2 separate regions of the Homo sapiens genome follow, and region 2 is linked to region 1. The links come from fine-mapping of genetic effects on gene expression. A gene starts in region 1. The other region holds a variant in brackets. All regions are shown on one strand. Distances are between the middles of the regions. Region 1 holds the start of GRB2 (growth factor receptor bound protein 2). Region 2 overlaps GRB2 (growth factor receptor bound protein 2).

Region 1 (10,274 bases):
AGAGTCTCGCTCTATTGCCCAGGCTGAAGTGCAGTGGAGCAATCATGGTTCACTTCAGCCTCAAACTCCTTGGCTCAAGCCATCCTCCTGCCTTAGCCTCCCAAGTAGCTGGGACTACAGGTGCACACCACCATGCCTGGCTAATTTTTGTGTGTGTGTGTGTGTGGTGACCAGGACTCACCATGTTGCCCAAGCTGATCTCAAACTCCTGGACTCACGTGATCCTCCCCATCTCAGCCTTTCCAAGTGCTGGGATTACAGGGGTGAGCCACCACACCTGGCCTTGACAATCTTTTCTTTTTTTTTTTTTTTTTTGAGATGGAGTCTCGCTTTGTCACCCAGGCTGGAATGCAGTGGCACGATCTTGGCTCACCACAACCTCTGTCTCCTGGATTCAAGCCATTCTCCTGCCTCAGCCTCCCAAGTAGCTGGGATTACATGCCCCCACCACCACGACTGACTAACTTTTGTATTTTTAGTAGAGGCAGGGTTTCACCATGTTGGTCAGGCTGGTCTTGAACTCCTGACCTCGTGATCCACCCGCCTTGGCCTCCCAAAGTGCTGGGATTACAGGCCGTGAGCCACCGCGCCCGACCAACAATTATTTATTTATTTTTTTGAGACAGAGTCTCGCTCTGTCGCCCAGGCTGGTGTAGTGACGCAATCTTGGCTCGCTGCAAGCTCCGTCTCCCAGGTTCATGCCATTCTCCTGCCTCAGCCTCCCGAGTGGCTGGGACTATAGGTGCCCACCACCACACCCGGCTTATTTTTTTGTATTTTTAGTAGAGACATGGTTTCACCATGTTAGCCAGGATGGTCTCGATCTCCTGACCTCGTGATCCGCCTGCCTCAGCCTCCCAAAGTGCTGGGATTACAGGCATGAGCCACCGTGCCCGGCCCTGACCGACAATTTTGAAATATTAATACATACTCTTTTTTTTTTTGAGACAGGGTCTTGCTCTGTCACCCAGTCTGGAGTGCAGTGGGTGCCATCTTGGCTCACTGCAGCCTTGACCTCCCAGGCTCAGGCCATCCTCCCGCCTCAGCTTCCCAAGTAGCTGGGACTACAGGTGTGTGCCACCACACCTGGCTAATTTTTGTAAATACATACTCCTTTTTTTGAGATGGAGTCTTGCTCTGTCACCCAGGCTGAAGTGCAATGGCACGATCTCAGCTCACTGCAATCTCCGCCTCCTGAGTTCCAGCAATTCCCCTGCCTCAGCCTCCCAAGTAACTGGGACTATAGGCGTGCACCACCATGCCTGGCTAATTTTTGTACTGTTAGTAGAGATGGGCTTTCACTAGGTTGGCCAGGCTGGTCTCAAACTCCTGACTTCAGGCAATCCACCAGCCTTGGCCTCCCAAAGTGCTGGGATTACATGCATACCACCATACCCAGCCTCATGCTCCTTTTTTCTTTCTGAGACAGAGTCTCGCTCTGTTGCCCAGGCTGGAATGCAGTGGTGTGATCTCATCTCACTGTAACCTCCACCTCCTGCGTTCAAGCGATTCTCCTTGCCTCAGCCTCCCAAGTAGCTGGGATTCCAGGCGTGTCACCACCACCTAATTTTTGAATTTTCTTTTTTTGTGTGTTTGTGTGTGTTTTTAATGTTTGTATTTTCAAATAAAGACGAGGTTTCACCATGTTGGCCAGGCTGGTCTCCAACCTCAAGTGATCCGCCCACCTCGGCCTCCCAAAGTTCCAGGGTGACAGGCGTGAGCTACTGTGCCTGACCAATACATACTCTTGACCAAGCAATTCCACTTCCCAGATTTATCTCACTGAAACAATGAGACAAAATACAATGTGCAACATACACATATACACCCACACCCTTGATCAATATCCATGAGCTTGTGTATGGAGTATCTACATAAATACCAGGATATATCAATTTTTTTTTTTTTTTGAGACGGAGTCTTGCTCTGTCGCCCAGGCTAGAGTGCAGTGGTATGATCTCTGCTCAAAGCAACCTCCACCTCCCGGGTTCAAGCCATTCTCCTCAAATTTTTAAAGCTGCAGAAAAATTATAGTTTATCCTATTTCTGTAAGGCAAAATAATACATCAGTATGTGCTTAAAAAAAAAGGCTAGGCCGGGCGCAGTGGCTCACGCCTGTAATCCCAGCACTTTGGGAGGCCGAGGCGGGTGGATCACGAGGTCAGGAGATCGAGACCATCCTGGCTAACAAGGTGAAACCCCGTCTCTACTAAAAATACAAAAAATTAGCCGGGCGCGGTGGCGGGCGCCTGTAGTCCCAGCTACTCGGGAGGCTGAGGCAGGAGAATGGCGTGAACCCGGGAAGCGGAGCTTGCAGTGAGCCGAGATTGCGCCACTGCAGTCCGCAGTCCGGCCTGGGCGACAGAGCGAGACTCCGTCTCAAAAAAAAAAAAAAAAAAAAAAGGCTAACAATGGTTATCTCTGCTAGCGAGATCACAGAACACTTTTACTTTCTGCATGATACACCTCAATTGTATTTTCATTATTTTTACAATAGGCATGTGTTACTTTTGTAGTTACAACACAAACCAAAAAGCTTACTGACGCTCTGGAGTTAGACTTGGATTCAAATGTCACTTTCCACTTACTAATGAGGGGACACTGGAGAAGTAACTTATACTCTGTAATCCCTAGTATCCCTTAACTGGAAAATGGGAATAATAACAGCCAACTACCTTATAAAGTCATTTTGATAATTAAAAGAGATAATGGTTGTAAAATGCTTGGCAGAAGTCTCTGGCTCTCTCCAAAAGACTGAGCTAACTAATTATCCACTATAGTGTGGGCTGTGATGATTTTATTATTATAATGTAGTATAAGCCAGAGACCTTAACTAGTATTTTCAGTCTCTTTTCAAATACTAGCCTACATGTTCTAAGAGTAAATGTGGAGCTTCCATCTGCATAGGCAGATATCCTGATGAAACCATCATCAGTTGAAAATATTGTTACATGGAAATGCATTTTAATACACCTAACCTACCAAACACCACAGCTTAGCCTAGCCTACCTTACCTTAAATGTGCTCCAAACACATTAGCCTACAGTTAAGCAAAATCATCTAACACAAAGCCCATTTTATAACAAAGTGATGAATATCTCCTGTAATTTACTGACTATGGTACTGAGAGTGAAAAACAAAACAGTTATATGGGTACTGGAAGTATAGTTTTTACTGAGCGCTATTGCTTTCACACCACTGTAAAGCTGAAAAATCTTTCGTCTGAGTCTACAGACTCAGAAGAATTCTCTGGTAGGCAAATTAATGACCCTATTAAGTATAAATTTCAAGTTAAATCACTCCACATCACAGTATTAAGAATGCTAAAAAATTTACACATGTAAAAATGAATCATGCTTATAGTCACTCATTCCATTAGGCTATTCTAAATACTGACTTTGTGTATACACAGAAAAATGTAATTTTAAGTTGAATTACTTAAAGCCACACAGCAGTCTTATTATTTATGGCTGCATTTGGTAACAACAGTTTTGATCCTTAGACCATCTGTATCAAAATCCACCCATTCAGAGACTGATTCACTGTGGGGTACATCCTGGAGTTCTACCAGAACCTAATTTTAAAAAGATCTCCCAGTGATTTTTATGGATACTAAATTTTAAATAACTGCTATACCATAAGGATGCCTTAACCAGATTTTAAAATTTGCATTCCAGATAATGCACTACAATGTCCTTGCATGAAATGAAAATAATGCATATTGGCCGGGCGCGGTGGCTCACGCCTGTAATCCCAGCACTTTGGGAGGCTGAGGTGAGTGGATCACCTGAAGTCGGGAGTTCCAGACCAGCCTGACCAACATGGAGAAACCCTGTCTCTACTAAAAATACACAATTAGCCAGGCGTGGTGGTGCATGCCTGTGATCCCAGCTACTAGCGAGGCTGAGGCAGAAGAATTGCCCGAACCCAGGAGGTGGAAGTTGTGGTGACCTGAGATCGTGCCACTGCACTCTAGCCTGGGCAACAAGAGCGAGAATCTGTCTCAAAAAAAAAAAAAAAGGAAAAAGAAAATAATGCGTATTCACTTGGCACAACTAGGAAAAAGGCAACTTTGACCAAAAAAAATATATATATATATAAATATATATATATATACAGACTCTCAAAAGCCATTCAGTAATGGTGGAGAGTTCCTCTGAATTAAGCAAGTATTAATTTCTCTCCGGAGGGCATGGTGACTCTCTATTCTGTATTACTTCATTTCTCCAAAATCCATTCCTCTTCTGTTGTATGTGTAACAATTAGAACTCTGATGGACAACATGCAACATGATAACAGCAATTACTGAGAAGAATCTCTAAGTACCATCAACCAGTAGTATTTAAAACCCAGCAAGCCTCTCAAATCTGAATAACTTGCTGACGAAGTAAAGTGCCTCAAACATTTAAACGTTTGAGTTCAGGCCGGGCGCAGTGGCTCATGTCTGTAATCCCAAGGCTGAGATGGGCAGATCACTTGAGGTCAGGAATTCGAGACCAGCCTGGCCAACATGGTGAAACTCTGTCTTTACAAAAATACAAAAATTAGCCAGGTGTGGTGGTGAGCACCTGTAATCCCAGCTACTCGGGAGTGCGAGGCAGGAGAATCGCTTAAACCCAGGAGGTGGAAGCTGCAGTGAGCCGAGATCGCACCACTGCACTCCAGCCTGGGCGACAGAGCGAGACTCCGTCTCAAAAAAATAAAATAAATAAATAAATGCTTGTGTTTAGTAGAAGAAAGCTGATTATAAGAATTAACTCTGGCCGGGCGCGGTGGCTCACGCCTGTAATCCCAACACTTTGGGAGGCCAAGGCGGGTGGATTACCTGAGGTCAAGAGTTCAAGACCAACCTGGGCAACACAGTGAAACCCCATCTCTACTAAAAATACAAAATTCGCTGGACATGGTGGTGGGCGCCTGTGATCCCAGCTACTCGGGAGGCTGAGGCAGGAGAATCGCTTGAACCCAGGAGGCAGAGTTGCAGTGAGCCCATATAGCACCATTGCACTCCAGCCTGGGCAAAAAGAGCAAAACTCTGCCTAAAAAAAAAAAGTCACTGAGCTGACCCAATCTTCCTATTATAAAGACATACTAGAAGAAAACATAAGCAGGCACAGAAGCATAATCTTAAAAGAAAAAGAGTAAAAGACAAAAATAATACAAGCAAACCACACTTGCGACCTAGTGGCAGGACTGATTTCTTAGGGATGAATTCAATCTTTTGAGCCTCCCCGTTCTCAGAGAGGGGACTTCAGCCTCCCACGGCTCTCTAGCAACCCTTCTGGCTGACTGCAGGGAACGCAGGGGACGCGCAAAAGTAAAGGAACGAAAGCAAGGAAAGAGAGTCTCTTCCCGAGGAAAAAGACGGAATCTTGAAATGAGAGAAAACGAACAGCACGAAAGGGAAGAAACCTCGAAAAATTACGCCAGAGTGGGGACTACAAGGAGGAAGGGGAAGTACATTAGAAAAAAAGGGGGGGGTGGGGGGAGGAAGGGGCAAATGACTTGCATTACACAAGCATTTCGTGTCCCTAGTGGAAAGGACAGAAGCAGATAGAGAAGGAAGGAAATAACTGGAGAAAGAGGAGTAAGAAAGCCAAAATAGACTAATGCTAATTTCTCTCATGTGTCTGACATTTCGGAAAGTCAACAGCATCAAAAAGAGACAGACCTCAAGTGCACTTCAGTCCCCTGCAAACTGCACTTTCACAGCGTTTGAAGCCAGCCTTGAAAAACTTTCTAAACAAGCCATAACTCATGTGTGGCTTACAATCATAGAGAGGGCGCGCTGCAAATGAAAATTACCAGCGCCCGCTCTCGCCGCAATCCTTCCTCGGTGCAGTCCAACCTGCTACTGCTGAATTTTTCTTGACAAATATTTTTCAAATAGTTTTTTTTTTTAAGTGTCAGAATAAAGGTATCTCCCCCGGCTCCAGCAGCAAACGTTCCACCCCAAAGTGGATTCCCGCACAAAATTAAGCCCAAAGACGCCAGGAGATGGTGACGTGGTTGCCGTGCAGGTCGAAGGCACATCAATCACCACAGCTGCAGCCCACACCAGTCCCCCGCCGCCAGGCTCGGGTAGACTGACTCGGTCGGCGTTCGGCCCGCCTGGGCTTCCCGGGCCCCTTCCGTGCAAACCCTCCCGATGAAGGCAGGGGACCTCGCCAGAGAACCCCGACCTCTTCCCCCGGACTGCCCAGAGCCAAGAGCCGGAGGAGGACGGTCCCCAGGAAGGAAGCGCCCCAAAAGGGGAAACGTAGAGTCCGGAGCCCCGGGGATTGCGCTCCACGTCCCAAGCCTCGCCGCCCCGACGCGAACCCCGGGGCCGGTCCCGGTTCCCCCGGGGCCCACTCCCGCTGTAGAGCCAAGAGGAAAAGGCACGAGAGAGGCGCCGAGCGCAGCCTCCCGTACTCACCGTGGCGCAGCTGCTCCGCTCAGCGTCCGGCCCGCCCCTCCACAACGCTGCGAGCGGCCGGCGACCCCAAGGCTGCTCTGCGAGGGCAGCGCTTGCTCCCGCCGCCGTCACCGCCACAGGCACAGACTCTGCCACAGCCGCCGCCGCCGCTGCCGCCGCCCGGTCGCCGAAGCAGCAATACCTCCTGGCTTCCGCTCCCCGTCGGTGTCCCGCGAGAACTTCTCCACGAGGCCCCGCCCCGCCCCCGCGAGACTTCCCCCGGCGGAAAAGGCCCAGAGCGCAAGCGCTCCTCCTCAGCCGGGCCCCTGCGGGTAGGGAACCAGCTAGGTGTCAGGGCGCATGCGCCAGACCTCCCCGCAGCAGGTGGCCTCCGCACGGCTCCGCCCCCGGGTCGCCGTAACCCTCTCGGTGCCAGAGCGGGTAAATGACAGCTTAGCCCTGAAGGACTCTTCCCCCGTCTAATCACTTTATTTTCCTCTTCTACCAAACCTAGGCAGTTGGATGGGTAGGGGCTTGGGGGAGGAAGAGATCTTCCAGAATGAAGCACTCCAAATAGAGGACCAGGTCTTAAAATATTTGAGAATCCGGTCCGTACAAACTCTGCTGTGTTGAATGATTGGTGAGTTTGTTTGCTCATTGATTGAATCACTGCAGAGTTTGTACGGACCGGATTCTCCAATATAGGCCGAACACTGTGCTGGGGATAGAACAGAAATCTTGGCCCTTAAGGAATTCACGGTCTAGGAAGTAGAAGAAAAATAAACAAATAATGCCATAAGTACTGTTATAATTATTTGGAGTTTGCTGAGGAAGCTAAAAAAATGGAGGGGGTACTGCTACACTGCCCATTGCAGAAGAGCCTTCACAGATGTGATGCGGCGATGTCTGATCTGAGTCTTGGAGGATGAGTAGGAATTTGCCAGGCAGAGAAGCCAGAGTAAGGGCATTTCAGGGAAAGGGAATGGCACGTAAGTACAGAGGCTAAGTACAGAGGAACGGAGGCGTGAGAGAGAAAGTCGTGTTCTGTGCAGTGCTAAGTAGTTCAATTCCTGTATGAGGCCGGTGAGTACGGGGGAGTGGCAGAAGATGAGGCTTGGAGAAATAATTCTTATTTTTCAGTTCCCAAAGCTCTTCCAATTAAAGGATAGAACACAACACACCTAGCGTTACTGTGCCTTCTGGAAGCCAACAAAATAGCGCTGAGGTGAGAATAACCAAGCATCTGATTCTATAGAGAAAAGAAGCCCATTGAAACACAGAAAATGAATTGTGCTTTCACCAAGTATTTATTGAGCATCACCTGTGTGCAAGGGGCTCTGCAGGGTCAAAGACCAACCAGATGAAGCCCCTGCTTTCAGTGCTTTGTAATCTAGAGTTGCCTAATCTGTAAGACAAGCAGTTGGCCCCAAGTGCCACTGAACTACACATAGGGATGGCTGAGGAGGGAGCCAGTACTTGGTGCTGAGCTAATCAAGAAGGATTTGGTTTGAACGGCAAAGTGAAAGCAGGGAGGAAAGAGGAAAGAGTAATGGAATCAGCCTTTTGTTTTTTTTTTTTTTTTTTTTTTTTGAGACGGAGTTTTGCTCTTGTTGCCCAGGCTGGAGTGCAATGGTGCGCGATCTTGGCTCACCGCAAGCTCCGCCTCCCGGGTTCAAGGGATTCTCCTGCCTCAGCCTCCCGAGTAGCTGGGATTACAGGCATGTGCCACCACACCCAGCTAATTTTGTATTTCTAGTAGAGATGGGGTTTCTCCATGTTGGTCAGGCTGGTCTCAAACTCCTGACCTCAGGTGATCCGCCCACCTTGGCCTCCCAAAGTGCTGGGATTACAGGCGTGAGCCACCATGCCTGTTTTTTTGGTTTTTTTTTTTTTTTTGAGACTTGCACTGTTGCCCAGGCTGGAGTGGAGTGCAGTGGCATGATTTTGGCTCACTGCAACTTCCGCCTCCTGGGTTCAAGCATTCTCTCACCTCAGCCTCTCAAGTAGCTGAGATTACAGCAGCCTGCCACCACACCCAGCTAATTTTTGTATTTTTAATAGAGACAGGGTTTCGCCATGTTGGCCAGGCTGGTCTCGAACTCCTGACCTCAGGTGATCCACCTGCCTCAGCCTCTCAAAGTGCTGGGATTACAGATGTGAGCCAACACTCCTGGCCATCAACCAATGTTTTTGATTAGTCCAAGCCCCAGTAATTGGGGGGAAGAGTGATGAGAGAGAGGGGCCAAAATGCAAAATGCATGGCTTAGGTGTCATAGTCAAGTGATGGGCAACCTCTGAAGGTTTCTGAGCAGGAGGTGTCTGATATGAGGTGAAAATAAGAAAAGGACCCTCTATTTACCACTTGATGCATACTTAAGTCATAGCGCCTCCACAGGGTGGGTAATATCCCCATTTTACAGACTTGGAAACTAAGCCTTAGAGAGGTTAGTAATTTACCCAAGGAAGCCAAAATATAGTAGACCTAAGATTTGGACTAAGGCCTGTCTTGTTCTAAAATCCTCATTTTTTTCCCGCACTATGCCACTTTGTTCTAAAATAGCAGTCAGAAAAAAATAGAAATGGAAGGGAGGGACTTAGCTGCTAAGCAGAGAGGAAGACATGAGGGAAGAATTGCAGTTTTTTGTTTTGAGTGGGCCTGGATAACAGGGAGAACACAGAAATTTGCCAGTCAAGAGGCATAGCTGACTGGAGGGGGCAGGCACAGAGAACAGGGAAGGGCAGGTGAGGAGATGATTGTAAGGGTGAAGGGAATTTTTCCCTTCCACTCTGACAGTTTGAGTCTGCTGAAATAAACTGGCAATAGATTAACAGGAGAAAGCACATACAAATTTACTGACATGCAGTGTGCATGGTTACCATACAGAATATGAGACTCAGAGAAGAGCCAGGTGGCTGAAGCTTAAAGAGCACCATCTTTGCAGAGGAGAGGGAGATGAGCGGAGGTCAGCAATACTGAAAGGTAGTCAACTATTTTTAGGGAAAAGGAATGAGCCCAAACAATGCCTGGGACAAAGTTCCTCTGAGCTCTGGGAGCTGGAGGTTGTGACAAATTTCAGGAAGGTGAGGTGCAGGACTTCACTGTAAATAAAGGTTGTCTTATTATGCAGATAAAGTCTCCTAAATAATCTCAGCTGTCCTCAGGAGAATAGATGAAAAGTCTGTTTGGATGTGGTGACAACTTTTAGTCTTTTCTCTTCTCTGGTAGTTAATATTTCCTGGTTATTTGACGAGAGTCCTAGGGAGGAAATTTTAAGACAGTCGCATCTATTTTTTTTCTTTTCTTTTCTTTTTTTTTTTTTTGAGATGTAGTTTCACTCTTGTTGTCCAGGCTGGAGTGCAATGGCGTGATCTCAGCTCACCGAAACCTCCACCTCCCAGGTTCAAGTGATGCTCCTGCCTCAGCCTCCAGAGTAGCTGGCATTACAGGCATGCACCACCACGCCCGGCTAATTTTGTATGTTTAGCAGAGATGGGGCTTTTCCCTGTTGGTCAGGCTGGTCTCGAACTCCCGACCTCAGGTGATCCGCCCGCCTTGGCCTCCCAAAGTGCTGGGATCACAGGCGTGAGCCACCACACCTGCTCTTTTTCTTTCTTTCTTTTTTAATGGATCCCTTCACAGATTTGCATGTCTTCTTGCTCAGGGGCTATGCTAATCTCTGTATCATTCCAATTTTAGTATATGTGCTGCCAAAGCAAGTACACAATTGAATTTCTTTTGGTTTCTCAGTCAGCTAAGGGAACTTTCAGACAGCCCCTGCATGCATGTGGGGTGGTGAAACAAGACTTTAAAAAGTCCTTGGTTCTGAGGCAGCTTGTAAGTCCTTCCAATTTCCTTTCATTCAAAAGTGCTCAGAAT
Region 2 (17,100 bases), 93 kb before region 1:
TTCTCTGGCTGGGCATGGTGGCTCACACCTGTAATCCCAGCACTTTGGGAGGCCGAGGTGGGTGGATCACTTAAGGTCAGGAGTTCAAGACTACCTTGGCCAATACGGTGAAACCCCGTCTCTACTAAAAATACAAAAATTGGCTGGGCGTGGCGGTGGGTGCCTGTAATCCCAGCTACCTGGGAGGCTGAGGCAAGAGAATTGCTTGAACCCGGGAGGCGGAGGTTGCAGTGAGCCAAGATTGTGCCACTGCACTCCAGCCTGGATGAAAGAGTGAGACCTTGTCAATAATAATAATAATTGGGCATTTTCCTACTATGGAAGAAGAGGGGGGAAGGTGGCAGAAAACATGTCTGCCCAGATGGATAGATGAAGAGAAACATCTATTGAGGAAGTATATGATTCCTCTGGCATTAGGCTGGATATTTTATTTTATTTTATTTTTCCAGATGGAGTTTCGCTCTTGTCGCCCAGGCTGGAGTGCAATGATGCGATTCGGGTCACTGCAACCTCCGCCTCCTGGATTCAAGCGATTCTGCTGCCTCAGCCTCCTGAGTAGCTGGGATTACAAGCATGGGCCACCAGGCCTGGCTAATTTTTTGTACTTTTAGTAGAGATGGGGTTTCACCATGTTGGTCAGGCTGGTCTCAAACTCCTGACCTCAAGTGATCAACCTGCCTCAGCCTCCTAAAGTCCTGGGATTACAGGTGTGAGCCACCGTGCCTGTCCAGGCTGGATATTATATACATTAGCCATGTCTCCCAAAAACCCTAGGAGGCCAACATCACATTCCATCATACTGCTGAGGAAACAAGCTCAGAGGCATCAGCCACCTCGCCCAAGGTCACATAACCAGCAGGATCTGGAGCTAGGACCAAGAACCCAGTTCTGTGGGATTTTTTGTGCACCTCCCCCACTGCCAAATTCATACTTTGAGGCCCTAACCCCACAATGCAATGGTGTTATCAGTTTGTTCTCCCTGCTATAAAATACCTGAGACTTGGTAGTTTATAAAGGAAAGAGGTTTAATTGGCTCATGGTTCTGCAGGATGTACAGGAAACATGGCTGGGGAGGCCTCAGGAAACTTACAATCATGGTGGAAGGTGATGGGGAAGGGACATCTTACACTGCCAGAGCAGGAGAAAGAGAGCGAAGGGAGAGGTGCTATATGCTTTTTTTTTTTTTTTTTTTTTTTTTTTGACACGGTCTCTGTCGCCCAGGCTGGAGTGCAGTGGCATGATGTTGGCTCACTGCAACCTCTGCCTCCCAGGCTCAAGCGATACTCCCACCTCAGCCTCCCAAGTAGCTGGGATTACAGGCGCCTGCCACCACGCCTGGCTAATTTTTGTATTTTTAGTAGAGATGGGGTTTCACCATGTTGGCCAGGCTAGTCTCAAACTCATGACCTCAAGTCATCTCCCCGCCTCGGCCTCCCACGGTGCTGGCCTGGCTGCCCTGTGTTTTGAGATCATGCTCCTCACCCATCTGCACTTTGAGTTCTACAGCTGAGGGGGAGAGGTCTTCTTCCCATGGATTACTTTTCTCAGGCTGCAAAAGTGTTTGGAAGAGCAGCCTTATGGTCAGAAGGCATTTGAAAAACAACTTATATTCCTTACTCACAACAAAATAGTTTTTATTTGTTTTTTTGAGACGGAGTCTCACGGTGTCACCCAGGCTGGAGTGCAGTGGTGCGATCTCGGCTCACTGCAACCTCCGCCTCCTGGGTTCAAGCAATTCTCCAGTCTCAGCCTCCTGAGTAGCTGGGACTACAGGTGCCTGCCACCACACCCAGCTAATTTTTTGTATTTCTAGTGGGGATGAAGTTTCTACATGTTGGCCAGGCTGGTCTTGAACTCCAGATCTTAAGTGATACACCTGCCTCAGCCTCCCAAAGTGCTGGGATTACTGGTGTGAGCCACTGCGCCTGGCCTATTTGCTCCTTTAATGAACTTTCGTCTTCACTAGTGGTCTCAGGACAAGCAGAGCAGGCAGTGGAAGAGCCTTGGAGCTCACCTGGCCATCGGTTTAAATGTGCCATTTAGACATGATTTCTTGAGGCCAGGTGTGGGGGCTTTCACCTGTAGTCCTAGCACTTTGGGAGGCTGAGGCAGGAGAATTGCTTGAGGCCAAGAGTTCAAGATGAACCTGGCCAACATAGCAAGACCCTGTCTCTAAAAAAAGAAAAAAAAAAGACACAATTTTGTCTGTATGAGATCAAATGCCAAACCACTGCACACAGACAAGTAATTCAGTAGGGAAGTGAGATCAACATTTGTACAGAGAAATCAATACCTTCCCATAGACAAATGACAGCTAGCTAGAAAATGGGAGGCCGGGCATAGTGGCTCCTGCCTGTAATCCCAGCACTTTGGGAGGCTGAGGTGGGCAGATCACTTGAGCTCAGGAATTCAAGACCAGCCTGGGCAACATGGCGAAACCCCATCTCTACAAAAAGTACAAAAATTAGGTGGGCATGGTGGTACTTGCCTATAGTCCCAGCTACTCAGGAGGCTGAGGTAGGAGGATTGCTTGAACCCAGAGGGTCGAGGCTGGGATGAGCTGTGTTCACACCACTGTACTCTAGCCTGGGTAACAAAATGAGACCATGACTCAATAAATAAATAAATAGATAGATATAAATTTAAAAACAAAAATAAATAAATTAGCTGGGTGCAGTGGCACATGTCTGTAGTCCTAGCTACATGGAAGGCTGAGGTGGAAGGATCACTTGAGCCCAGGAGGTGGAGGTTTCAGTGAGCCATGATCACACCACTGCACTCCAGCCTGGGTGACAGAGCAAGACCTTATCTCAAAAAAAAAAAAAAAGATGGAAGAAGATAAGGTCTGCTTTAAAATATCAACAAAGATGATAAAATATCTGGGAACAAATGTCACAAGAAACATGCAAAATCTCCATAAGGAAAATGTTCCCAAAGGACATGAAACTGGAAAGACATGGCAAGTCCTCGGATAGGGAGACTCAACATCACAAAACGCCAGTTCTTCTTAGTTTACAAATTTAACATGATCCAAATAAAAACACCAAGAGCCTTTTTTCTGGAAGGAAACAAGCTGATGCTAAAGTTTACATTGAAAATATAAACAAGGCCGGGCGTGGTGGCTCATGCCTGTAATCCCAGTACTTTGGGAGGCTGAGGCAGGCGGATCATGACGTCGTCAGGAGTTCAAGACCAGCTTGGCCAACATGGTGAAACTTCATCTCCTCTCTCTCTTTTTTTTTTTTTTTGAGACGGCGTCTCGCTCTGTTGCTCAGGCTGGAGTGCAGTGGTGCGATCTCGGCTCACTTCAGCCTCTGCCTCCTGGGTTCACGCCATTCTCCTGCCTCAGCCTCCCAAGTAGCTAGGACAATAGGCGCCCACTACCACGCCCAGCTAATTTTTTGTATTTTTAGTAGAGATGGGGTTTCACTGTGTTAGCCAGGATGGTCTCGATCTCCTGACTTGGTGATCCGCCCGCCTCAGCCTCCCAAAGTGCTGGGATTACAGGCATAAGCCACCGCGCCTGGCCGTTTTTTTTTTTTTTTTTGAGACAGAGGCGTGCTTTGTTGCCCAGGCTGGAGTGCCATGGCGTAATCTCAGCTCACTGCAATCTCTGCTTCCTGGGTTCAAGCGATTCTCCTGCCTCAGCCTCCTGAGTAGCTGGGACTATAGGCGTGTGCCATCACACCTGGCTAATTTTTGGATTTTTAGTAGAGACAGAGTTTCACCATGTTGGCCAGGCTCGAACTCCTGACCTCAAGTGATCTGCCCGCCTTGGCCTCCCAAAATGTTGAGATTACAGGTGTGAGCCACCATGCCGGCTGGTGAACCCCGTCTCTACAAAAATACAAAAATTAGCCAGGTGTGGTAGCGGGTGCCTGTAATCCCAGCTACTCGGGAGGCTGAGGCAGGAGAATTTCTTGAACTAGGAAGTCAGAGGTTGCAGTGAGCCGAGATCACGCCATTGCACCCTAGCCTGGGCAACAAAGCGAGATTCCGTCTCCAAAAAAAAAAGAAAGAAAATAAAAGATAAACAAGAAGAGCCAGGACATACTGAGAAGAGCAATGGGAAAAGAATGGCCGATCTGACATCAGAAACTTAGTGTGCCGCACTAGCCCACGGGCAGACTGCAGAGTAACAGAGGCCCAGAAACAGGACCCCAGTATACAGAGGACATGGACACTCATTATACAGAACGCACCTGCTCGCAGGGGGCTGCCGATGGACCTGTGAGTAAATACTATCTGGACAAGCGTGTAGTCATCTGGAAAAAAGGAGAGCTGAATCCATCTCTCACACTGATATCAGGATACCTTTAAACGGATCAAAGATTTAAACAGGCCAGGCGCAGTGGCTCACACCTATAATCCTAGCACTTGGGAGGCCTAGGTGGGTGGATCACTGGAGGTCAGGAGTTCAAGACCAGCCTGGGCAACATGATGAAACCCTGTCTCTACTAAAAAATACAAAAATCAGCCAGGCGTGGTGGTGCATGTCTGTAGTCCCAGCTACTCGGGAGGCTGAGGCAGGAGAATCACTTGAACCCAGGAGGTGGAGGTTGCAGTGAGCTGAGATCGTGCCATTGCCCCTCCAGCCTGAGCAACAGAGCGAGATCCGTCTTAAAAAAAAAAAGAAAGAAAAGAAAATACAGATGGGTGTGGTTGTAATCCCAACACTTTGGGAGGCTGAGGTGAGAGATCACTTGGAGCCTAGGAGTTTGAGACCAGCCTGGGTAACATAGTGAGACCTCATCTCTACAAAAAATATAAAAATTAGCTGGGTGTGGTGGTGTGTTCCTGGAGTCAGCTACTTGGGAGGCTGAGGTGGGAGGATGGCTTGAGCCTGGGAAGTTGAGGTTACAAGAGCTGTAGTTGTGTCACTGCACTGCAGCCTGGATGACAGAGTGACAGCCTGTCTCAAAAAAAAAAAAAACTGTAAAACCAAAAAACAAAAATCTATGAATTATTTTGCACTCGGTAAGAACAGAATAAGAATCATGGATAGGCACAGGGCTGACCAGAAGCTGGCTGAACTCAAAATGATTTACCAGATGTGGGCACTAGCATAGATTAACCCATCTTGTGCTAGTTACTTAATACACCTTATCCTGTGTAATCTTATAACCCACACTCAGCCTAAATTTTTTTTTTTTTTTTTTTTTGAGATGGAGTCTTGCTCTGTCGCCCAGGCTGGAGTGCAGTGGCGCAAACTCAGCTCACCGCAACCTCTGCCTTCTGGGTTCAAGTGATTCTTGCCTCAGCCTCCCAAATAGCTGGGATTATTACTGCATGTTCCACCACACCCGGCTAATTTTTGTGGCTTTTTTTGACAGGCAGTCTCTCTCTGTCACCCAGACTGGAGTGCAATGGTGCAATCTTGGCTCACTGCAACCTCCGCCTCCCAGCTTCAAGCAATTCTCCTGCCTCAGCCTCCCAAGTAGCTGGGATTACAGGCACCTGCCACCATGCCTGGCTAATTTTTGTATTTTTAGTAGAGACGTGGTTTCACCATGTTGGCCAGGCTGGTCTCGAACTCCTGACCTCAAGTGATCCGCCTGCCTCGGCCTCCCAAAGTGCTGGGATTACAGGTGTGAACCACTGCGCCCGGCCAATTTTTGTGTTTTTAGTAGAGACGGGGTTTTACCATGTTGAATAGGCTGGTCTTAAACTGACCTCAAGTGATCCACCCACCTAGGCCTCCCAAAGTGCTGGGATTACAGAATTGAGCCACTGTGCCCGCAGGAGGATGGAGGAAGGGAGGATGGAGGAAGGGAGGATGGAGGAAGGGGGCAGGCAGTTGGGATTTCGAGACTGCAGGGGAGCAAGAGCCCCCTGGGAGCTGATCAGGAAGGGGTTCTCAGGAGATGTGGGGTCTGTAGATCTAGTTCTTATGACAGGCTGGGGATAAGCAGAGAGCAGAGAGGAGGAGCTGAAGGTTAGTTAGAGAGGAGAGGACAGCGGCTGGGGCAGAGGTGGCCTGTGAGTAAATACTATCTGGACAAGCGTATAGCCATCTGGAAAAAAGGAGAGCTGAATCCATCTCTCACACCGATATCAGGATACCTTTAAATGGATCAAAGATTTAAACAGGCCAGGCACAGCGGCTCACGCCTGTAATCCCAGCACTTTGGAGGGCCAGTGCAGGGGGATCGATTGAGCTCAGGAGTTGGAGACCAGCCTGGGCAACATGGTGAAACCCTATCACTACTAAAAATACAAAAATTTAGCCGGACATGGTGGTGTGTGTCTGTGGTCCCAGCTACTTGGGAGGCTGACGTGGTAGGATTGGTTGAGCCCAGGAGGTGGAGGTTGCAGTGAGCTGAGGTTTTGCCTGTGATCTGGGAGAAAGGTAGATGCTGACCAAAGGCAAAGACTCAGAAGGGATTTGGTTGGCCAAAGGCTTGGAGAATTGGACCAGGTGCAGACTGTATGAGATCTTGAATGCCAAGATCCTAATCAGCACCTGTCACGATGTACTTAATCGTTGCAGTTGCAAAACACCCGTGTACATAATCACGTTGGATCCTCAGAGCAACCTAGGGACATTTTCCTTGGTTTGATTTTTAAACAGATGAAGGAATGGGGGTGAGAGGTTAAGGGCCCTGGTCGTGGCCAGGCGCCATGGCTCACGCCAGTAATCCCAGCAATTTGGGAGGCTGAGGTGGGTGGATCACTTGAGGCCAAGAGTTCAAGATCAGCCTGGGCAACACAGCGAAACCCCGTTTCTATTAAAAATACAAACAACCAGCCAGACATGGTGGAACGTGCCTGTAATCCTAACTCGGGAAGCTGAGGTGGGAGAATCGCTTGAACCCGGGAGGCGGAGGTTGCAGTGAGCTGGGATTGCATCACTGCACTCCAGCTTGGGCGATAGAGTCTTGCTCTGTTTCAAAAAAAAAAAAAAAAAAAAAAAGGAAGAAAAAAGGAGAAAAAGGGGGCCCTGGTCACACAGCGAGGAATAAAGGCCCTGGCCTCAGGCCTGCGATCTCATGCTCTTTGTCCTACATCACACTGCTCCTGAGGGGCAGGAGCCTGGACTTTGCCCTCTTTGGACAGGCTGGGGAAAGAGGCAGGGTGGAGAGACAGGAGGAGGTTTTGTGGCAGTGGGGAGAGGGGGACGAAGGGCCGGGACCAGGATGGTACCAGGGAGCATTTCCCTGCAGCCCTGTCCCTGGAGCCCTGTGGCGTCCCTGGTGCTGTGGACTCTTGGCTCACCTCCTGCCGCTCTGGCCTCTCTCCTGTGTGCTTCCTGCCTTCCCCTCGCCCAGCCCTCAGGGCTGTGCTTCCTTATGGGGACTGGAGTATGTGAGGCCTCACCCGTGGCCATGGTTTCAGGGCCACCTCCACACTGACAACACCTGGATCTCGATCTCCTGTCAGATCTGTCTCCTGAGCTCCAGGTGAACACACCCTGCTGCTTTCTAGATGATTGTCCTCAGGCACCTCAAATCCAACCCTCCAGCCTTTCTCTCTGCTTCACCCCACCCTGCCCCTCTTCCCCTAGTTCCCCATCTCAACAAACAAAAGCCACAGATCCCCCCACTGCCCTGCAGCCATCTGGACCTGCCTTTCCCTCCACCCCAGGTCTTCCCAGCTCCTCCTAAATACAGCTCAACGCCCTTGGCCCTCTGCCACTCCCTTCACTGGGACAACATCAGCAGTTTCTTTATTTTTTTTAGACGGAGTCTCACTCTGTTGCCCAGGCTGGAGTGCAATGGTGTGATCTTGGCTCACTGCAACCTCCGCCTCCCGGGTTCAAGTGATTCTCCTGCCTCAGCCTCCTGAGTAGCTGGGACTACAGGCACACGCAACCACGCCTGGCTAATTTTTGTATTTTTAGTAGAGACAAGGTTTCACCATATTGGCCCGGCTAGTCTCAAACTCCTGACCTCTGGTGATCCACCCACCTCGGCCTCCCAAAGTGCTGGGATTACACAGCTGGCTAATTTTTGTTATTTCTTGTAGGGGCAAGGTTTTGCCATGTTGCCCAGGCTGGGGTATATGGTTTCTTTTGGGGTATGACAGTGTTCTAAAATGGATTGTGGTGGCTGGCACAGTGGATCATGTCTGTAATCCCAGCACTTTGGGAGGCCAAGGTGGGAGGGTCGCTTGAGGACAGGAGTTTGAGACCAGCCTGAGCAACATAGTGAGACCCTGTCTCTACTAAAAAACATAAAATAAAATGGATTGTGGTGATGATTGCATAACTGTGAATACTAAAAAACATTGAATAATATACTTTAGATGGGTCACTTAAAAATGTTACATTGATCATATCTCCATAAAACTTTTTTTTTTTTTTTTTTTTGAGACAGAGTCTCGCTCTGTCGCCCAGGCTGGAGTGCAGTGACGCCATCTCGGCTTGCTGCAACCTCTGCCTCCCAGGTTCAAGTGATTCTCCTGCTTTAGCCTCCTGTGCAGCTGGAATTACAGGCGTGGGCCACCATGCCCGGCTAATTTTTGTATTTTTAGTAGAGACTGGGTTTCACCAGGTTGGCCAGGCTGGTTGTGAACTCCTGACCTCAGGTGATCTGGCCCCCTCGGCCTCCAAAAGTGCTGGGATTACAGGCATGAGTCACCATGCTCGGCCTAAAATCTTCAAAAAATTT[T/A]AAAATTCGCTAGGTGTGGTGGTACCACCTGTAGTCCCAGTTCCTTGGGAGATTGAGGTGGGAGGATGGCTTGAGCCCAGGAGTTTGAGGCTGCAGTGAGCTATGATCACACCACTGCACTCCAGGCTGGGCCATGGAGCAAGACTCTTGTCTCTTAAAAAAAAAAAAAAAAATTGGCTGGGTGCGGTGGCTCATGCCTGTAATCCCAGCACTTTAGGAGGCCGAGGAGAGTGGATCACCTGAGGCTGGGAGTTCGAGACCAGCCTGATCAACATGGAGAAACCCCCGTCTCTACTAAAAATACAAAATTAGCCAAGTGTGATGGCTCATGCCTATAATCCCAGTTACTCGGGAGGCTGAGGCAGAAGAATCGCTTGAACCCAGGAGCTGGAGGTTGTGGTGAGCCGAGATTGCACCATTGCACTCCAGCCTGGGCAACAAGAGCAAAACTCCGTCTCAAAAAAAAAAAAAAAAAAAAAAAAAAGGCTGAGCACAGTAGCTCATGCCTGTAATCCCAGCATTTTGGGAGGCCGAGGCAGGCAGATCACTTGAGGTCAGGAGTTCGAGACCAGCCTGGCCAAATTGGTGAAACCCCGTCTCTACTAAAAATACAAAAATTAGGCCACGGGCCAGGCACGGTGGCTCACTCTTGTAATCCCAGCCCTTTGAGAGGCCAAGGCAGGTGGATCACGAGGTCAAGAGTTCAAGACCAGCCTGGCCAGCATGGTGAAACCCCATCTGTACTAAAACTACAAAAAAATTAGCTGGGCATGGTGGCATGCCTGTTGTCCCAGCTACTCGGGAGGCTGAGGCTGAAGAATTCCTTGAACCCGGCAGGCAGAGGTTACAGTGAGCCGAGATTGTGCCACTGCACTCCAGCTTGGGCGACAGAGTGAGACTCCATCTCAAAAAAAAAAAAAAAAAAATTAGGCAAGGTGGCGGGTGCCTATAGTCCCATCTACTCAAGAGGCTGAGGCAGGAGAATCACTTGAACCCAGGAGGCGGAGGTTGGAGTGAGCAGAGATCGTGCCACTGCACTCCAGAGTAAGACTCTGTCTCAGAAAAAAAAAAAAAAAAAAAAAAAAGGCCAAGTGTGGTGGCTTATGCCTTTAATCCCAACACTTTGGGAGGCTGAGGCGGGAGGATCCCTTGAGTGCAGGAGTTCAAGACTAGTCTGGGCAATATAGTGAGACCCCATCTCTGTGAAATTTTTTTTAATTAGCTGGGCATGGTGGTGCGCACGTCCAGCTACTCGGGAGGTTGAGGCGGGAGGATCACTTGAGCACAGGACTTCAAGCAAGCAGTGAGCTATGATCATGCCACTGCACTCCAGCCTGAGACAAAGCAAGACTTCGTCTCAAAAAAAAAAAAAAAAAAAAAAAAAAAAAGACATTCAGAGAGAAATTGGCTTGTCCTATGCAGCTAGGTCTGGAGAGTGGGGTTCGTGCCGAAGAGCCAGCCCCATCTGTAAGGAGATGGCGCAGATGCTGGTCTTACGAAAGCTGTCACTGCTGCTTCCTTCTATTTTAGATGACAAGCAATTCTACTTCCTTTTCCAAAACCTCATATTTTTTTCTTTTCTTTTTTTTTTTTTTGAGACAGAGCTTCACTCTTGTTGCCCAGGCTGGAGTGCAATGGCATGATCTTGGCTCACCGCAACCTCCACCTCCTGAGTTCAAGTGATTCTCCTGCCTCAGCCTCCTGAGTAGCTGGGATTACAGGCATGCACCACCATGCCCAGCTAATTTTGTATTTTTAGTAGAGATGGGGTTTCTCCATGTTGGTCAGGCTAGTTTCAAACTCCCAACCTCAGGTGATCTGTCCGCCTCGGCCTCCCAAAGTGCTGGGATTACAGGCGTGAGCCACCGTGCCCGGCCAAAACCTCCTATTTTTTGCTGGGCCTCTCAAGTTTCTCCCCAGGTCCTATCCCCAGCATTGTCCCTGGATAGGCAGTGTGGCTGCTGTAACAGACAACCCTCCTCCCCCCGTCAGTGATGCAACACAGCTGATATTTGTTTCATTTTTTTGAGACGAGGTCTCGGTCTCTGCTGCCCAGGCTGGAGTGCAGTGGCAGAATCATGGCTCACTGTAGCCTCGACCTTCCAGACTCAGGCAATCCTCCTGCCTCAGCCTCTTTGAGTAGCTGGGACTACAGGAGCACACCACTGAGTCTGTCTAATTTTTTGTAGAGACAGGGTCTCACTATATTGCCAGACTGTTCTCAATCTCTTGGGCTAAAGTGATCCTCCCAAAGTGCTGGGATTACAGGCATGAGCCACTGTGCCCCGCCCCAGACATGTTCCAAATCTAGCAGGTGCTCTGGGTCTTCTGCTGGCTCTCCTGCATCCACCCACAGGCAAGAGAAGCAACAAAGTGGGGAGGCCACAAGGCCCCAAACACACCACACACGTCAGGACTGGAGCACATGGCTGCTTGGAACTGCAGGGAGGTTGGGCACATGGTCCAGACAACTGGTCGGGAGAGAGCCAGGTGAGCACTGCGCACACTCTGCTGCAGAGCCTGACTTCACTCAGCTAACACGACCCTAGCCTCTTCCAGGCTATCCGGATTCTGGTCTCCGCACCACTGCAAGTCAGATGTTCCTAAAACTTATCTTTCATCGTACCGCTGATCTATAAGAGCTACAGAAGCAGCCAGGCATGGTGGCTCACACCTGTAATCCCAGCACTTTGGGAGGCTGGGGCGGGTGGATCACCTGAGGTCGGGAGTTTGAGATCAGCCTGGCCAACATGGCAAAACCCCATCTCTACTAAAAATACAAAAATTAGCTGGGCATGGTGGTGCACACCTGTAATCCCAGCTACTGGAGAGGCTGAGGAAGGAGAATTGCTTGAGCCCAAGAGGCAGAGGTTGCAGTGAGCTGAGATCGTGCCACGGCACTCCAGCCTGGGTGAGTGAGACTCTGTTTAAAAAAAAAAAAAAAAAAAAAAGCTACAGAAGCCTCCTGTGTCAACAGGCAGAATGGGCATCGCTCAGCCTGCATTCGAGTCCCCCACAAACCCCACCTGGGCTCTTTCTTCCTCGTTGCAGGAGGCTACTCAGGCTCCCTCAAGCCATGTCCAGGCAGGTGCTCGCTAACACCGCCACGCCTCTACTAGACCACCTGCTCTGGGTGTCTACTGTCCTATTAGTAACTGTCCAAACTCATTTCACCCAATCCCCAGGGCAAGTCCCATCTGCCTCCAAGCCTCCCTTTGAGCCTGTGCTGTCTACATTTCCTCTTTGAGTCTCTCTCATGCAAGGGCTTGCATAATACAAGGATCAGGACTGAAGAGTGCGTCTGTGTCAAGGACAGAAGGCTCCAGTGGGGCAGTTTCCAGTTTCAGGGTGACTCAGGGCAGCAATGCCACCGTGCAGGAATGGAAAGCGGTGGTTGATGGTGTGAGAAGACACGGGGGCCCTCCTCAGCCTCCAGTTAGAGGGGAGATAATTGCCTCCAATTCCACACGCCCCAGGAATGACGTTCACCATCAATCCCTACAGGTGTGGGCAACACATGTGTAACAGAGTAAATGAAAAAGGGTACACCCTCGCCCCTTGCTTCCCTAGCACAGCGCAGGATGAGGGGTGGGGTTACAGCAGGAGGCAAACATCCACCCTTTCACCCCAGGCTCGGGCCCTTGCACAGGCCTGCAGCACGAGGCGAGCCCTCAGGACCTGGCAGCTGCTATTTTGGAGGCCAACACTGCTGACGCCACGACTCACACTCAGAGAATGGCTGCAATAGCTGTGCTTTCTCAACCCGAATCCAGGAATGTTAAAAAAAAAAAAGGCTGGGGCAGGGCCTGGTGGCTCACGCCTGTAATCCCAGCACTTTAGAGGCCAAGGTGGGCAGATCACGAGGTCAGGAGATCAAGACCATCGTGGCCAACATGGTGAAACCCCATCTCTACTAAAAATACAAAAATTAGCTGGGTGTGGTGGCGGGCGCCTGTAGTCCGAGCTATTCGGGAAGCTGAGGCAGCAGAATCGCTTGCACCCAGGAAGCGGAGGTTGCAATGAGCTGAGATGGCGCCACTGTACTCCAGCAACAGAGCCAGACTCCAACTGAAAAAAAAAAAAGAAAAAAGAAAAAAAGAAGGCTGTCCTTGGAGACCTAAGACCAGTGTTGCTCTTGGGTGGGCCAGAGTTGAGACTTAAAATACGTCTTAGTGATTTCTTTTTTGGACGGGGTATAGTATGGCTTTTAGTGTTAGTTTTAAAAGTAGTGTTTGGAATGCACTAAGCAGTAAGTGGCTTAATCAATATCACTAACATGTAATATTGATCTATCAGTGCTGTTGGCACACAGAATTGTACTCTTTTTTTTTTGAGACGGAGTCTCACTCTGTCGCCCAGGCTGGAGTGTGATGGCGCGATCTCGGCTCACTGCAACCTCTGCCTCCCGGGTTCAAGCGATTCTCCTGACTCAGCCTGCCGAGTAGCTGTGATTACAGGTGCCCGCCACCACGCCCACCTAATTTTTGTATTTTTAGTAGAGACAGGGTTTCACCACGTTGGCCAGGCTGGTCTTGAACTCCTGACCCCAGGTACAAAAATTAGCTGGGCGTGGTGGCAGGAGCTGGTTATCCCAGCTACTTAGGAGGGTGAGGCAGGAGAATCACTTGAACCCGGGAGGTGGAGGTTGCAGTGAGCCAAGATCGTGCCACTGCATTCCAGCCTAGGGGACAGACGGAGACTCTGTCTCAAAAAAAAAAAAAAGAAAAAAAAAGTATTTCCAAGACGCATAAAACAGGTCCACTGTCATTTTTTCCAGTTATCCAGGAACTTCCATAAAGCGAACGTTTTGGGCTGAAGGTCACCCACCCCATGAACAGTCAGGTGGAACTAGTGCCCAGGGAAGGCAGGCAGCCTGCGCCATCATGGCCTTTGGCTCAGAGGCCACCTAAGCAGCCCCGCGCTGTGGGTCACCATCTCCTCCACACTCAAGTCTGAAGGTGAGCCTGTCAGGGGCTCCCAGCTCACTGGGTGGAGGGAAGCGTGTCAGGGAGGGGTGGGGGGGGCGTGCCCTGAAGAGCGAGGCCATGCGCCTACCTCCAGCTTTTCCCCTGACACACTGAGCGACTCCCGGCTGCACGCCGGCCACAGGGCTCCTGTAAGATGCTGGGAGGCTTCCCAAGGCACCCCGCCCAGATGTCTTCCCAGGAATCCCGGATCCCTGAGGAGGGAGATACCATCACTAAGAAATCTGTGACCAAACTGCTGATCACAGAAAAGGAGTGATTTTCCCATTAATTCTGAAACAGTCAGTCAAACGCGAGGGAGGGGACAAATTGAGCAAAAAGCCTCAAATGAGGCTAAATGAGTCACCACGCCCGGCCTTTTCAATTACATAGCTCCATTTTGTAAACTTCTGCTCAGCTTCAAGGAGGCCAGCCCAAGTGGACCACAGGACTAGCAGTCTTGACTCTTGCTGGGTCAAGATCCTTCCCACACATGACTGCTGCAGGGGAAGGTCAAAAACGTCCCAGGCCAGGCACAGCTCACGCCTGGATTTCCAGCACTTTGAAAGGCCAAGGGTGGGGGGATCTCTTGAGCCCAGGAGTCTGAGACCAGCCTGGGAAACACAGACCCCACTGTACAAAAAAAAATGAAATTAGCCAGGTGCAGTAGCGTATGCCTGTAGTCCCAGCTACTTGGGTGCAGTAGCGTATGCCTGTAGTCCCAGCTACTTGGGTGCAGTAGTGTATGCCTACAGTCCCAGCTACTTGGGAGGCTGAGGTGATCACTTGAGCCCAGGGGATTGAGTCTGCAGTGAGCTATGATTGCACCGTAGCACTCCAGCCTGGGTGGCAGATAAAGACCCTGTCACAAAACAAAACAACCCACAAGCCTCCCCTGCTCAGTGTGGCTACACCAAGAAGAATTCAAGTCGAGATTTCTTGGGTATTTTTTTTTTTTTTTTGAGAGAGGTCTGTCTCTCAGGCTGGAGTATAGTGGCATGACAGCTCACTGCAACCTCCACTTCAGCCTCCTGAGTAGCTGGGACCACAGGTGTGCATCACCACACTCAGCTAATTTTTGGTAGAGATGGGTTTCACTATGTTGCCCAGGCTGGTGTGGCATTCTTGAGCTCAAGCAATCCACCCGCCTCAGCCTCTCAAAGTGTTAGGATTACAGGCGTAAGCCACTGAGCCTGGCCCTTATTACCTTTATTTTTTATTTTATTTTATTTTTTTGAGAGGGAACCTAGCTCTGTCACCCAGGCTGGAGTGCAGTGGTGCAATCTCGGCTCACTGTAACCTCCACCTCCCGGGTTCAAGCGATTCTCCTGCCTCAGCCTCCCGAGTAGCTGGGACTACAGACACCTGCCACCACAGCTGGCTAATTTTTGTATTTTTAGTAGAGATGGGGTTTCACCATGTTGGCCAGGCTGGTCTTGAACTCCTGACCTTGTGATTCACCCGCTTCAGTCTCCCAAAGTGCTGGGATTACAGGTGTGAGCCACCCTGCCTGTCCCCTTTTTATTACTTTTTCGAGACAAGGTCTCACCCTGTTGCCCAGGCTGGAGTGCAGTGGTGCAACCACAGCTCACTGTAGTCTTGACCTCCTGGGCTCAAGTGATCCACCTCAGCCTCCCAAGTAATCCTCACTACAGGCGTGCGCCACTGCATCTGGCTAATTTGCTTTTTGTAGAGAGGCAGGGAGTCTCCCTATGCTGCCCAGACTGGCCTCAAAACTCCTGGGCTCAAGTGATCCCCCACCTTGGCCTCTCAAAGTGCTGGGATTACAGGCATGAGCTACCATGGCCAGACCTCATTTCTTTTTTGTTCAGTCTTCTTTGCCTCTGTAGCCAACGTGTGTGTAAATATGCCTAGTCTCACCCTAAAAGCAGCCTATTGAGCAAACAAGTATATTTCAGTTACTCAGCATATTAAAACCGTTTCTTCACAGGTGTTTCTGTCCTTCTTCTTGTTTAACACAGAAAACAGGAGAACCAAATAAGCCAAGCTCTTTATCTTCCCAAAGCCCTTGGTCTAGACCAGAGTTCCCAAAGCGTGGTCAGTGGTTTCTCTACATCAGAAACAGCGGGCGTGTCTGTGTCCTCAAAGGCAATGTCCGAGGATGTGGGGCGGGGTTTGCGATTCTGTATTGTTAACAGGCTCCCCAGGAGTTCCTGACAGCCAACTGCAGGCATCGCTCCCAGGAAGGCCTGTGAGCCCCACATGCTCCCCTAGGGGGATGTAAGCTGGGTGATCACGTCTGAAATAAGGACCCAAGATTCCTGACTCCCCGATGCGGTTTTTAAATTTTTAAGGCAGGCAAGGGGAAAAAAAGATACCAAGTGAAGAATTCATTGTGTATTTATTATTCACAGTTAATCACTACCTACCAAATGCTATCCGCAGAGTTAAAGGATTAAGTACATAGGTCTTTATTTAAACACTGATTTTTTTTTTAAATATATACACACAAAACTTAGTTCAGCAAGGCTTCATGATATACACCAATTCCAAAATAAAACAATCAAATGGTCCAGGTGTAGAATGCCAGATTCCTTTTATCATCTGCGAGGAAAAGAGAAGCAGGATGAGGAAGAGTGAGGGAAGGCGGGGACAGGCTCTGCCCAGAAGAGCTGCCGCCTCCTGGCACAGCAAACGCTCCAGGCCTGGGCCCTGTTCATATCTGGAGTCGGAGGGAGACTCCCATCGGCCGCTTTGGGACTGAAAGGCCCAAGGCTGTCACCAGCTCCCGGAAGAGAGGGAGGCAGTCTTGTTTTTGTCGTGGGAAGGGGTTTGGGTGGAGAAAAAGATTACAGGCACATCACCACAGGGGACCAGAAGTGGAGAGAAGACAGAGAGTTCTGCCGAGGCCTTGGTCTTCCTGTCTTTCCAATCTTGCCTTCCCCAACTCTCCCTGCTTCCTGGGACCATCGGTAGGGGTGGGGAGCAGCAGTCAACACAGCCCACTGGGAAGGGAGGCACAAGCAGCACTCCAGCTTCCCAGTGCTGCCCTCACACTCACCTGGACAGGTCAGGGGACACAGGATGAAAGCCATGGCCCAATCTAAGAGCAAGACAAGTGAAAAGTGAGTACTCTCACTGTGTACCCCAGCATAGGAATAGTGAAACCTGCTACAACTGGAGGCTGCGTTCCCATGACTTCCTCCTCCGCTCTCCTTGTCTGGGACTTGCTGGTTCCAGGGGTGCATATAGGGAGGGGGCGGGGGCCACAACCCCCGAGACGGTGAGGACAGGCTTCCGACCCCCCTGTAAGCCAGATCCAGTGGGATGTGGGAGAGCTGGGCGGTCACCTTCCCTCTTGCCCCGGTGGCCCATCACACTCACACTGCACCCTGGGCAAGCAGTTCCCTGAACCCCCAAGGGGCTCACAACCCTTAAAGCTGGAGCTTAAAGCCTCCTGGCTTAGTACAAGCAGGAGAACGCCTCACCTTCCACTCCTGCTTTGTCTCCTTTGCTCTACCCTGGCTCCCCTGCCCGGAGGGAAAAATATTTACACAGAGTAGGAG

Evidence for each region.
Region 2: its variant is fine-mapped to the expression of GRB2 in whole blood (TOPMed, PIP above 0.99).

Annotation. Positions count from the first base shown.
Region 1 is chr17:75,399,071-75,409,344 of GRCh38, forward strand. It overlaps GRB2 (growth factor receptor bound protein 2), which reads right to left and starts at 6,608. Exons shown (of 6, transcript NM_002086.5): 1 at 6,419-6,608. It overlaps MIR3678 (microRNA 3678), which reads left to right and starts at 6,999; the gene lies at 6,999-7,092. It also overlaps the pseudogene RNU6-938P. RefSeq lists a silencer at 6,666-6,845.
Region 2 is chr17:75,302,160-75,319,259 of GRCh38, forward strand. It overlaps GRB2 (growth factor receptor bound protein 2), which reads right to left. Exons shown (of 6, transcript NM_002086.5): 6 at 15,917-17,100. Among named protein-coding and RNA genes, the nearest start is that of SLC25A19, 21 kb to the left of the region's middle. RefSeq lists enhancers at 13,836-13,985, 14,336-14,585. The variant T/A (reference allele first, on the strand shown) is at 8,610.